Linked DNA regions of Homo sapiens. The protein of the gene in region 2 interacts with the protein of the main gene of each other region in a pairwise test. Each region holds a gene or a part of one and is shown on either strand. Other genes may lie near its edges.

Region 1 (3,600 bases), on a different chromosome or scaffold from region 2:
TGCTGGGATTACAGGCGAGCGCCACCGCGCCTGGCCAAACAAATGTTTTTTATTTGCGACTCCTTCTCCTCGGATGGAAGAGGATGATTTATGGACTAATACAGAGGGGTTCCTTGGTAAGAATGAAAATTAAGCGCGGAACAACTGGTGACTTGTCAACACACCATCAAATGGCCCTTGCAGCCTCACATAAATGCAGACAAGAACAAGGTTGTTACAGGGAGCTGACACACCTGCCTGGGTTTAGTGCCCAGAGTCAGAGACCACTCACGGGTGCGGTGGTTTAGTTTCTCAAATGAGAAGCTATTTTATGAAAAAAGGCAAAAAGCTGCTGTTGTCTAACAAACAGTTAAGTTTGAAAAGACTGGGAAGGTGGAATCCTGTCTATTCAGCTAAAGGGATGAGACGCTACTTGTTTTCCCCAAGAAGTTAACGACCCCAAAGCTGCTAGGTCCCGACCCAAGACCACCACACTGCAGAACATGAAAACCAGAATGCCGTTCGCTGCAGATCTGTAGTTCAAAAAATAATAATAATAAAGCTGCCAGATATGGTAAACTCTGGCCATTCCCCTGGGGTACCCTTCCTAACCGCCCCGGTGGAGCCTAGACAGTGGCCCCTAGCCCAAAGCCTCTCTATCCAGAGCATCACTTTTCTAAGCAGAAAGTTCCTTCTGTGCACTCCACGGGCTTTAAGAGTTGAGGAACGGACTCAGCCCGGAGCCAGTACTAGCAGCGGCCAGGCACACCTTGGGGACTATAGCTGCAGTGTCCTAGCGGGAGGGAACGTCTCCGGGGCGTCTTGGCCCCCCGGACCGGCCGCCCAACCGCAGCCCCCGGGCCCTCAGAGCAGCGCCTAGCCTCTGTGGCAGAAGACGGGGCCGCGCTCGCCCCTGCAGCGCGGAGCTCCGCGCTCACAGCTGGCGCGGGACGCCCCTCCCCTCCGGGTCCCGCACTCACCCACCGCCCTGATGCGGAAGCCGCGCGGCGGCCGCAGGGCCCGGCGCCGCCAGGCATCGCGCAGCACCTGCAGGCAGGCGGGGGGCGCGCGCACCAGCAGCACCCCCCGCCGCAGCCAGCCCTGGAAGGCCAGCCGCGAGGCGGCGCGCGCCAGCCGCGCGTTCCAGAAGCAGCGCGCGTTGGCGCGACGGAAAGCGCGGAACACCGCGCGCCCACCAGGCTCCTCCGCGGCCCCCGCCGCCTTCTGCGCCTCCAGCCGGCACAGCACTAGCGCCAGCGAGCCCGGCGCCAGCTGCACGGGCCGGGACGCCCCTCCCCTCCGGGTCCCGCACTCACCCACCGCCCTGATGCGGAAGCCGCGCGGCGGCCGCAGGGCCCGGCGCCGCCAGGCATCGCGCAGCACCTGCAGGCAGGCGGGGGGCGCGCGCACCAGCAGCACCCCCCGCCGCAGCCAGCCCTGGAAGGCCAGCCGCGAGGCGGCGCGCGCCAGCCGCGCGTTCCAGAAGCAGCGCGCGTTGGCGCGACGGAAAGCGCGGAACACCGCGCGCCCACCAGGCTCCTCCGCGGCCCCCGCCGCCTTCTGCGCCTCCAGCCGGCACAGCACTAGCGCCAGCGAGCCCGGCGCCAGCTGCACGGGCCGGGCCATGCTTTCGCCGGCGGCCGGGAGCCCGCAACGCAGGGCCTCGGCGAGCGCGGCGGCTACGACGCCGCTCGCTCGGCGGGAGGATCGGCCGACTGCGCGCGGGTCCGCGGCGCTGGCTGCCGGGGGAACGGAGCTCCAGGGGGCGGGGCCGACTGCGCCTGGCGGGCCGGGGGTGGGGCGGCCGTGCTTAGGCCGGCGGAGCGCTCTGGAGGAGAATCCAGAGCCCAGCGTTCGGCTTCGTTCTCCACACCCGGGCCCAACTCGGCCCCCTGGCGATGCCCTCGACTTCCAGCCGCCTCGAGGTCCCGAGCTCCCCTTCCCCCAGGGGCGCGCTCTGGGGTTTTTCCAAGTCCTGGGGCTCCTCGCAGCTCCCTGGAGAACCTGACTGCGTCCATCCGCCGTGCGAACTGCAGCGCCAGGAGTCCCCAGGGCGGGGAGACTCGCCTTCGACCTGGCTTTGGGGCCGTTCCAAGTTAGCAACCACGAGGAACAGCCTGAGGGTGTCAGCGGGGGCCTGGGAGGTGTGGGGGTTGAGCAGGAAACCTAGGTTTGAGTCTCAGTTCTGCGCCTAAGCTAGTTGTTTGTTTCTATTTTTGTTTTTTGAGTCGAGGTCTCGCTGTGTTGCCCAGGCTGGAGTGCAGTGGCTATTCACTGAGTTCTGGGCTCAAGCGATCCTCTGATCTCAGCCTCCCGAGTTGGGACTACAGGTGCCCGCCACATCGCCTGGCCTGCTCCCAACCTGTTCATTCAAGTTATTTCCCTTCTCTGGGCCTCAGAAATGTCCCAGCTACTATTTCACAGGATAATAAACTAAGGACCCTTTCATCCATGACTTTCTTTTTTTTTTTTTTTGAGGCGGAGTCTCACTCTGTCGCCCAGGCTGGAGTGCAGTGGCGCGATCTCGGCTCACTGCACGGTCCGCTTACCTGGTTCACGTCATTCTCCTGCCTCAGCCTCCCGAGCAGCTGGGACTACAGGTGCCCGCCACCACGCCCGGCTAATTTTTTGTATTTTTAGTAGAGACGGGGTTTCATGGTGTTAGCCAGGATGGTCTCGATCTCCTGACCTCGTGATCCGCCCGCCTCCGCCTCCCAAAGTTCTGGGATTACAGGCGTGAGCCACGGCGCCCGGCCGGCCTCATCCATGACTTTCTGAAGTTGTAGGATCTGGTCCTACCCCGGGGATATCCCATACTCTTGAGTGCTGAGGAAAGCAGAGTGGAGAGGTGCCACCCTGATTGGTGTGGCGCTGTGGTGATATCGTAGGATTCTGCCCTGGGTTAGATGTGGACATTCTGAAAAGACGGACACCGTCCTGCCCCAGAGGCAAAGGGAGAGCTTGTGATGCGTGGCGGTAGAATGTGACCTGTGCCTCAAAGCAGTGAAGGCCGATTCAGACTGAGGACCCAGACTGAGGCCCAGCGGGAGGGCTCCTTGAGAAAAAAACCCATTTGAAAATACAACATGTTAAAAGAAGAGGAAGGGGCCAGGCGCGGTGGCTCATGCCTGTAATCCCAGCACTTTGGGAGGCCGAGGTGGGCGGATCACGAGGTCAGGAGATCGAGACCGGCCTGACCTACAAGGTAAAACTCCATCTCTACTAAAAATACAAAAATTAGCCGGATGTGGTGGCACGCGCCTGTAATCCCAGCTACTCAGGGAGGCTGAGGCAGAAGAATTGCTTAAACGCGGAGGCGGAGGTTGCAGTGTGCTGAGATGGTGCCACCGCACTCCAGCCTGGGTGACAGAGCAAGACTCCCTCTCGGGAAAAAAAGAAAAAGAAGAAGAAGAGGAAGGGCATTATGCTTGGTACCAGAACACAGTACTGTGAGGGAGCAGAGGTGCTTGGCAAAATCTAGGAGTCATTCCAGACTTCCCACTCCCTCAGCTCATCAGTCCTCAATAAAAACTATAAACATGGAGATAATTTATACCCTGCCCCCAGTAAGCACGCAATAAATGATAGATAATAACAATAGCTAACATTTATTGAACACTA
Region 2 (3,819 bases):
TGCAGAGCCGCCTGAGAGGCCTGTGGGAGCAGCAGAGGGTCCCGGCCTTGGGCGCCATCCGCTCTCTGCTGCTCTGGAGGGAGAAAAAGGACAAGTTGAAACTTGCACAAGCAGCCTCCATTCTGGGGAGTTCCCTTGTATTCCCCACACCAACCCGCACCTCAGCGAAGGCCTGTGGAAGACTTCTGCAGTGACAGCCCCGATGAACCATGCTTGCCGTGCCCGTCCCCTGTGCGGTGCCTCACGTCCACTCAGGCCCCGGCCATCTCACCCTCCTGGGGAGATGGAGGGAAGCACCATGGGGATTTGCTTTTTCTTGCTGCCGACGGAGCCCAGCCACCACGGGAGGGAGGCCCGGCCAGCCTGCGGTGGGTGGGTGACATGTGGCCCGGATCTGCCCGGGGCGCCTGCCTGTAAGTGGGCCCAGCAGACACCCCATGGAGCCGAGGCAAGCCGTCCCAGCTGAACCGGCTTAAGCTGCAGGCCCACAGAGTCATGAGCAGTGAAGAGAGGTTTTCGCCCTCTGAGGTTTGGGGTGGCCTGTTACACAGAAATACACACAACGTCCTCAGGCACGTATCTCTTTAAGAATGTGTCCCGAGAAGGCGTCCCAGGAGTCTTGATTTTTATTTAGCCGTCCACGGTTGCCCCTTTGGGTGCTTCGCCTTCAGATGGGGTGAAGGGCTCACTTGTTAGCTGGCTGGCCCCAAAGACAGGCTTGTTTTCCACCAGGCAGTGACTGAAGCCGGCAGCCTGCTGCATACCGCGGGCCTTCCCCTGACCTGTCCGGGACTGCGGGCTGGCGGCTGACACCTGCGGAGTGCTTACCGCATACCAGGCTCCCAAACTTCCATCTGTGTTCGTCTTTTAAGTTTTGTTGTTTTCCAGAGTCGGAGTCTCAGTGTTGCCCGGGCCAGAGCGCAGCGGCCATTTATAGGCGCGGACCTCGGCCTCGCACACCACAGCTCCAGCTCTGAGACACAAGCGACCCGCACCCCCCCACCGCCCAGCCCCAGCCTCCAGACTGGCTGAGATCACAGTGTGCGCCACCCCATCCCTGGCTTGCGATGGTCTCTTACTCCCCACTTTACAAGGGAGGAAAGAGGCCGAGGGCAGAGTGGGCCGCCTGAGGTTTGGAGGCCAGGGCTAGTACAACCTCAATTTGACCCTGGAACCTGCCGCTTCCCCCACCCAGGTGCGGGACCCACCCGCTTGTCCACACCTGGCTCTGCCCACCGCCCCCGGCTGCTCCTCTGGGCTCAGGTCGCCGCGGTCAGGAGCTGCCAAGTTTGCCTATCAAACTTTATCTTCGTGCAGAGAACTGCAGCCTGGAGCTGGTTATTCCGGTCAGTGAAAACGTTGCATTTCTACATATGCTTATCATCATCTGTGTAAACATTTCTTGGTATAACTGTGGAACAGTCAGTAAATATAGATAAATCGAAGAGTAGGTCTATTGCATATGCTATAAAAAAATGCTTTTACTATCAACCTAAAACAAACAAACAAACAAAAAAAATCAAACAAAACCACCATCACCTAAACGTTGGTAACTGGAGCAGCTGCTAGTGTCAGTGCGGACTAAACAGGAGACGGCGGGAACCGTGTCCAGCCAGGGTCCTGGGCCGCGACCTGGTTCTCCCGGAGTCTACAGTGAGGATGACGGGCGGGGAGAGGGGGCCGGCGGGACCCGCGTGTCCCAGGCAACTCCGGGAGAGGGAGAAGCAGGGGTGGCTCGGCGGGGGCTCGGCGGGGGCTCGGCGGGGGCTCGGCGGGGGCTCGGCGGGGGCTCGGCGGGGGCTCGGCGGGGGCAGCGCCCGCTGCAGGGAGGAGCGCGGGGGCCCGGGAGCCTGGGCAGCACCGCGAGACGCCACCTCCGCAAAACGCAAACGCCAATCGCCGGGCGCCTGCGGTCCCAGCTACCAGGGAGGCTGAGGCGGCAGGATCGCGTGAGCTCGGAGGTCCACCGCGCTCCAGTCTGGGCGACAGTGAGACCCCGTCCCCAAAACGAAGGCGGGCAGAGTCTCCTCAGCCGCGCTCGGGCGGGCGGCGCCGCGACGCCAGGCCGGTCCCGCGCTCTCGCCCCACGCTCCGGAGCCGCCCAGCCGCGGTCTCTCAGCTCCGGCCGCGCTCCAGCCCCAACGGCCCCGCGCCCGTCCGCCGCAGGTGGTCGTGAGGGAGGTGCCACAGCTCCGGCTGCCCACGACAGACACGGGCGCCCCAGCGCGCGCACGTCCGGCGTCGCTGCGCCGCCCCCGCCCCCTCGGCGTGCGCGCGCCCGGCGGGCCGGCGGGGGCGGGGAGGGGGCGGAGCCGCCGGCGGCGGGGCTGAGGCGCTGAGGCGGCCGTGGCGGCGGCGGCGGCGGCGGCGGCAGCGGCGGCCAAGCGGCCAGGTTGGCGGCCGGGGCTCCGGGCCGCGCGAGGCCACGGCCACGCCGCGCCGCTGCGCACAACCAACGAGGCAGAGCGCCGCCCGGCGCGAGACTGCGGCCGAAGCGTGGGGCGCGCGTGCGGAGGACCAGGCGCGGCGCGGCTGCGGCTGAGGTGAGGGCGGCGCGGGGCCGCGGCGGCTCGGGCGGGCGCGGGCTCCGGACCCCGCGGTGGCGGCGTTTATGTAAGCGCCGGGCAGGGACTGGTGGTGGGGCCGGAGCTGCGGGCCGTCCCGGGAGCGGAGGGCGCCCGCGGAGAAGCGAGGGTGCCGCGGCACCGCCTCGCACCCACCCTCCTGGGTCGCCCGTCTGCTCCGGCGCTCGGCTCCCGGAGGAAGCTGCGCCCGGGCGGCCCCGCGTCCCCTCCCGAGGGCGCCGAGTCCGCGTGGGATGCGCCGCGCTGCGCCGCGGGGAGGGCAGGTGCGCCGGGACGAGGCTGCGCCCTGGGGACCGAGACTGCGTTTTGGGGAGGGGACGGTGTGCCCTGGAGATCGGAGGCTGCGCTGGGGACGAGGCTGCGCCCGGGGACCAGAGGCTGCCCCGGGTACAAGGTTGCGCCGGGGAACGGGAGGCTGCGTTGGCAACAAGGCTGCGCCTGGGGACGGTAGGCTATGTCCCTGGGGAGACGCTCCGCCCGGCATGGGACGCTGCGCCGGGGGACGGCAGGCTGCGCCCGGGATGAGGCTGGGCCCGGGCAGGGGAGGCTGCCTTGGGAGGGGACGCTGTGCCACGGGAGTGGAGACTGCGTTGGGGACGAGTCTGCGCCCTGGACGGTCCTGCGTGTCCTTCCGAGGGCGCAGTGTCCGCGCGGGATGCTCTGCGCCGCGGGCGGCCCGGGCCAGGGAAGTTCCTGCGGGTGCCGGGCGTCTGCAGCGATCGGGAGCAATCTGGGGCAGTTGGGGGCCCGAGGTGACTTTTGACGTGTTCACATCAGAAGGAAAATTATTGCGTGGTGGATGGGTGCGAGGGAAGGTGTCAGATTGGGCTGTGGACGCTGAAACGTGTTGGAGTCCCGATTTACACGCTGGAAAACCTAACCTAAAACGTGTTCCTGTCCAGGTTTCTATGTCGGAGATCTGCACCGTGGTGTTTAGTTCCCAGTTAATATTTTTGGTCAGCAGGTTTGGGCTGTTACTTCTGATACAGGCATTTTACTTCCTTCTTACTAACCATTATTGCATTCCGTTCTCGAAGTATAACGAAAAGTGGCATGATATCAAACTTGTTTCTTTAACGTTTAACTCCATAATTAAGATGATAGAACCGTAGTTTTTTTAATTGAGAATACAAATATGTATTTAATCCTCTTTGTTTCCTCTTAAATTTTGCCGTATGTTTTATTGCTTCGAAAGGTGCCACCCAGAGCTGCATTTTCCAAAACGCTAGGTTGT
Region 3 (3,819 bases), on a different chromosome or scaffold from region 2:
ATTTAACCAGAAAGAGCAGAGATGCTAGACGGTAGAGCCCACCAAGGTGGGGAAAGAAGCTTTCAGACTGAAGCTAAACAAATAAATCAAGAATATTTCCTGGAGCTGATATCCAATTAAAAAATAAGGTGACATTCCAAAATTAACACCCTTACGGGGAAAATGTTATTACCTAAGAATTTTGTCTAACACAACATCACCTTTCTAAGAAGTAACAAAGGACACTCTGAATGTCCTACAAGATTCTGAAATGAAAAACCCTAAAGCCAAGTCTAAGATCTATACTGGTGGTATCTGGGGTCCCAGTCAGTTATTAACTGGCCATGACTGATGCTGTTTCTGTCAATATGACTGGCAGACATGAATGAATCAGGCCTGATTTCAAGTTTATCTCACCAGGACCATTCAGTGATGGGAAAGAAGAAGGTCAGCCATGGCTTTTGCTGAGGTCCTGCTTACCACTTCTGGCAGACACGAATTTTTCTTTTTACGTTCCTTTTTTGTTGTTGTTGAGACAGGGTCTGTCGCCCAGGCTGAGTGCAGTGGCATGATCACAGCTCACTGCAGCCTTGACCTTCCAAGGCTCAATCCTCCCATCTCAGCCTTGTAGCTCGGGCTACAGGTACAAGCCACCATACCTGGCTGATATTTTAATTTTTTGTAGAGACAGGGTTTCATCATGTTGCTCAGACTGGTCTTGAACTCCTGGATTCAAGGCCTCAGCCTCCCAAATTACAAGTTTGAGCCACCACACCTGGCCGTGAATTTTTCAACAGGGGATTATTTTCATCTGATGTTTAACTCACATAGGAAAAAAGAAATCCCAAACCTAAACTTTGGATTTGGCCTGTCTCTACTGTCACACTGTCTTATTTTGCCAGAAAAATCAAAGCCTATTCCACAATTAACGAAAGCCTAACAGTTATAAATCTTTCACACAGGCTTCATTTCTAGAGTGCAAATCACACTTAGTAATTTCAGTCCTAATTACCCTTCATCCTCATCCTACAAATAGAGAGGAGCAAGCTGCCCTCCACAAAGCGTCCCCAGACCACAAAGATACTGACACAATCAACGATCTAACCCAGAGCCTCCTGGGGCCAGTGGACATGCGAGGCCCCTCTGAGCACATTATGGTCCAAATGGATGAGACACTCCTCAGCAGGACTCCTTGAACTGTCAGGCAGATAAAGCCTTGCCTTGAAGCCTGCCCCTGGAGGTGCCCCAGTTCCCTAGGGTGAGGCGAGAGACCATCTTGCAATCAGAGAGCCCACAGCACTCACCTTCTCCTCTGACTTGAGTGCGGGTTTGGTGGGCTGCGCCTGCGGGACTTTGAAACCAAGGATCTCCAGCATGTTCTCGGCTGCATTGCGCTTGGCCACCTTCTTGTTGGTGCCCGTTCCTTCTGCAGTGTGGTTTCCAACCTTCACCTGCACAAAGAAGTCAAAACACAGACCAGTGCTTAAACCTTCAGAATAACAACCAGGCAGGAATTGGTGTGTCAGCAAAATAACCAACTATGGTCAGAAGCAAGATAACAGCAGTGCCCCGAACCTGGCCTCCTTGTCTCTGAGAGCTAATTATTAAATAGTCAGGAGTTTGGGAAGCTGGCTGTTAAACACAGCCAGTATTAAACATTTAATTATATAAGCTGATAATTATTTTAACAGAGGTAATTTTTGACTGCATTTTATAATCATCTGTGTTCTGAGGGTCTGCCCAGCTATTGCATTTGTACAATGGAAACAGTCTGTGATGGTGAACTACTGTACATCTATTCCCAGCATTGCCATTGGAAGTATCACTTTGAGAGCTTGAAATCAGCCATGGTGGGACTATTTATACCACAGAAATATACAAATGCTACGTATCAAAGATCATAAGCTGTTTATTGTCTAACTCTAAACCTACAATGATGAAAAGGTTAATAAAGCAGGTTAATCTTAAAAGCATGAGAAGTCTGCAGCCATTACATTGTAACTAGCACAAAAAACTGAAATATCTTCCCGTCTTTGAAAATTATCTAATTTTGCAGAGAAGCCACTCATATCATTTACAAATGAGTGATGTTACATGTCTTCATTGTTTCACTTTTTCTTTTTTCTTTTTTGGGATAGACAGGGTCTCACTTCTTCACCCAGGATGGAGTGCAATGGCATGATCTCAGCTCACTGCAACCTCCACTTCCCAGGTTCAAGCGATTCTCCTGCCTCAGCCACCCGAGTAGCTGGGATTACAGGCGTGTGCCACCATGCCTGGCTAACTTTTCTATTTTTAGCAGAAATGAGGGTTCACCATGTTGGTCAGGCTGGTCTCGAACCCCTGACCTCAAGTGATCCGTCATGCTGGGATTACAGGCGTAAGCCATCAAGCCCAGCCTGTTTTACTTTCATCTTACCTATTAACATAAATAAAAAACATCAACCAGCCGGGCGTGGTGGCTCACGCCTGTAATCCCAGCACTTTGGGAGGCTGAGGTGGGTGGATCACCTGAGGTCAGGAGTTCGAGACCAGTCTGGCCAACATGGTGAAACCCCATCTCTACTAAAAATACAAAAAGTAGCTGGGCGTGATGGTGGGCACCCGTGAATCCCAGCTACTCGGGAGGCTGAGGCAGGAGAATCACTTGAACCTGGGAGGCAGAGGTTGCAGTGAGCCGAGATCACACCACTGCCCTGCAGCCTGGACAACAGAGCAAGTTGACTCCATTCCCCTCTACCCCAAAAAAAATGTATCTCAACCAGTATTCATGCTACAACCAAAATCTCAAATCTACAGTATGTATTTGTCAGTGACATGAGCAACACCTTTGCTGAACTGGATAGTAATAAACCATTATGTGCTGTCTGATTTTATAACACTATCGTTGGTAACTGTCACACTGAAATATGTATGAAATTTACAATAAAGTGTATATTATTTATAAATTGTACTACACATCCTTTCTGTCAGTAAAATTTATAAAACACACATATATGTCAGTATAATTTATAACACACATCCTTTGTGTCAGTAAAATTTATAACACACATGTATATAACACCCATGTATATATCTATAACATACATATTCAGCTCATTCCACCAAACCACCCTCCCCGAAGAAGAGCTGGTTGTTAAACATGTTCCAGCACATCACTACTTACAACCCCCTTCCAAGTTGATTGTAATAACAGGCACCTGGCTGCTAAAACCAAAAGCCCAGGTCACAAGACTCAGAGAGTCAAAGAAACCATTCCCTGGCCTGGGACTAAATTCCAACCTGGCCATCTACCAGCCATTTCATCTTGGGCAAACTACTGATCCTCTCAGCAAACTGCAACTTCCTTTTGTGGAATGAAAGGATCATTCTTTTCCTACCTTCTGACTGCATAGGTAAAATATACGAGGTCAACTTTCTAAGTTATAAATTGCTATACAAGAGATAAGGATTCTGTCTTACATCAGAAAGCACTTAAATTCAAATCACAATTAAGTTAAGCTGCCTATGTGAAATGACCACTTAGCTTTGAACTTAATCAGCTAAGTACAAAGAAATGTTCCATACTAATCTGAAGTGTCACCCAATCTAAGGAAGAGGTAACCCTAGATTCCAGACTCCATAAGAATTAGGAGGAAGAGGAACAGATCTCTTGATACTACTTACAAAATTTACCTTTGGTAAAGAGCAATGTCATAAACCTTCAAGGAGATGTAATGAAGAAAAACTTCTCCCAGCACCCACCACCCCAGGACTCTTTCTTCCAAATTTCAGTGCAACACACCCACATTCCCACCAGTGCACCCAGCAGTAGTGCTGGTGTGCAGACATTACATTCAT

What was found.
Region 1: the proteins of ADARB1 (region 2) and STOX1 interact in binary tests that used the Homo sapiens proteins (3 or more experiments, as listed by UniProt).
Region 3: the proteins of ADARB1 (region 2) and STAU1 interact in binary tests that used the Homo sapiens proteins (3 or more experiments, as listed by UniProt).

Annotation. Positions count from the first base shown.
Region 1 is NC_000010.11:68,825,629-68,829,228, reverse strand, and holds the start of STOX1 (storkhead-box protein 1), read right to left. Parts: upstream 1,699-3,600; 5' UTR 1,606-1,698; coding exon 1,296-1,605; intron 1,253-1,295; exon of another isoform or gene 960-1,252; intron 1-959.
Region 2 is NC_000021.9:45,072,251-45,076,069, forward strand, and holds the start of ADARB1 (double-stranded RNA-specific editase 1), read left to right. Parts: upstream 1-2,329; 5' UTR 2,330-2,543; intron 2,544-2,800; exon of another isoform or gene 2,801-2,848; intron 2,849-3,819. UniProt on the Homo sapiens protein: Catalyzes the hydrolytic deamination of adenosine to inosine in double-stranded RNA (dsRNA) referred to as A-to-I RNA editing.
Region 3 is NC_000020.11:49,118,699-49,122,517, forward strand, and holds part of STAU1 (double-stranded RNA-binding protein Staufen homolog 1), read right to left. Parts: intron 1,431-3,819; coding exon 1,284-1,430; intron 1-1,283. UniProt on the Homo sapiens protein: Binds double-stranded RNA (regardless of the sequence) and tubulin.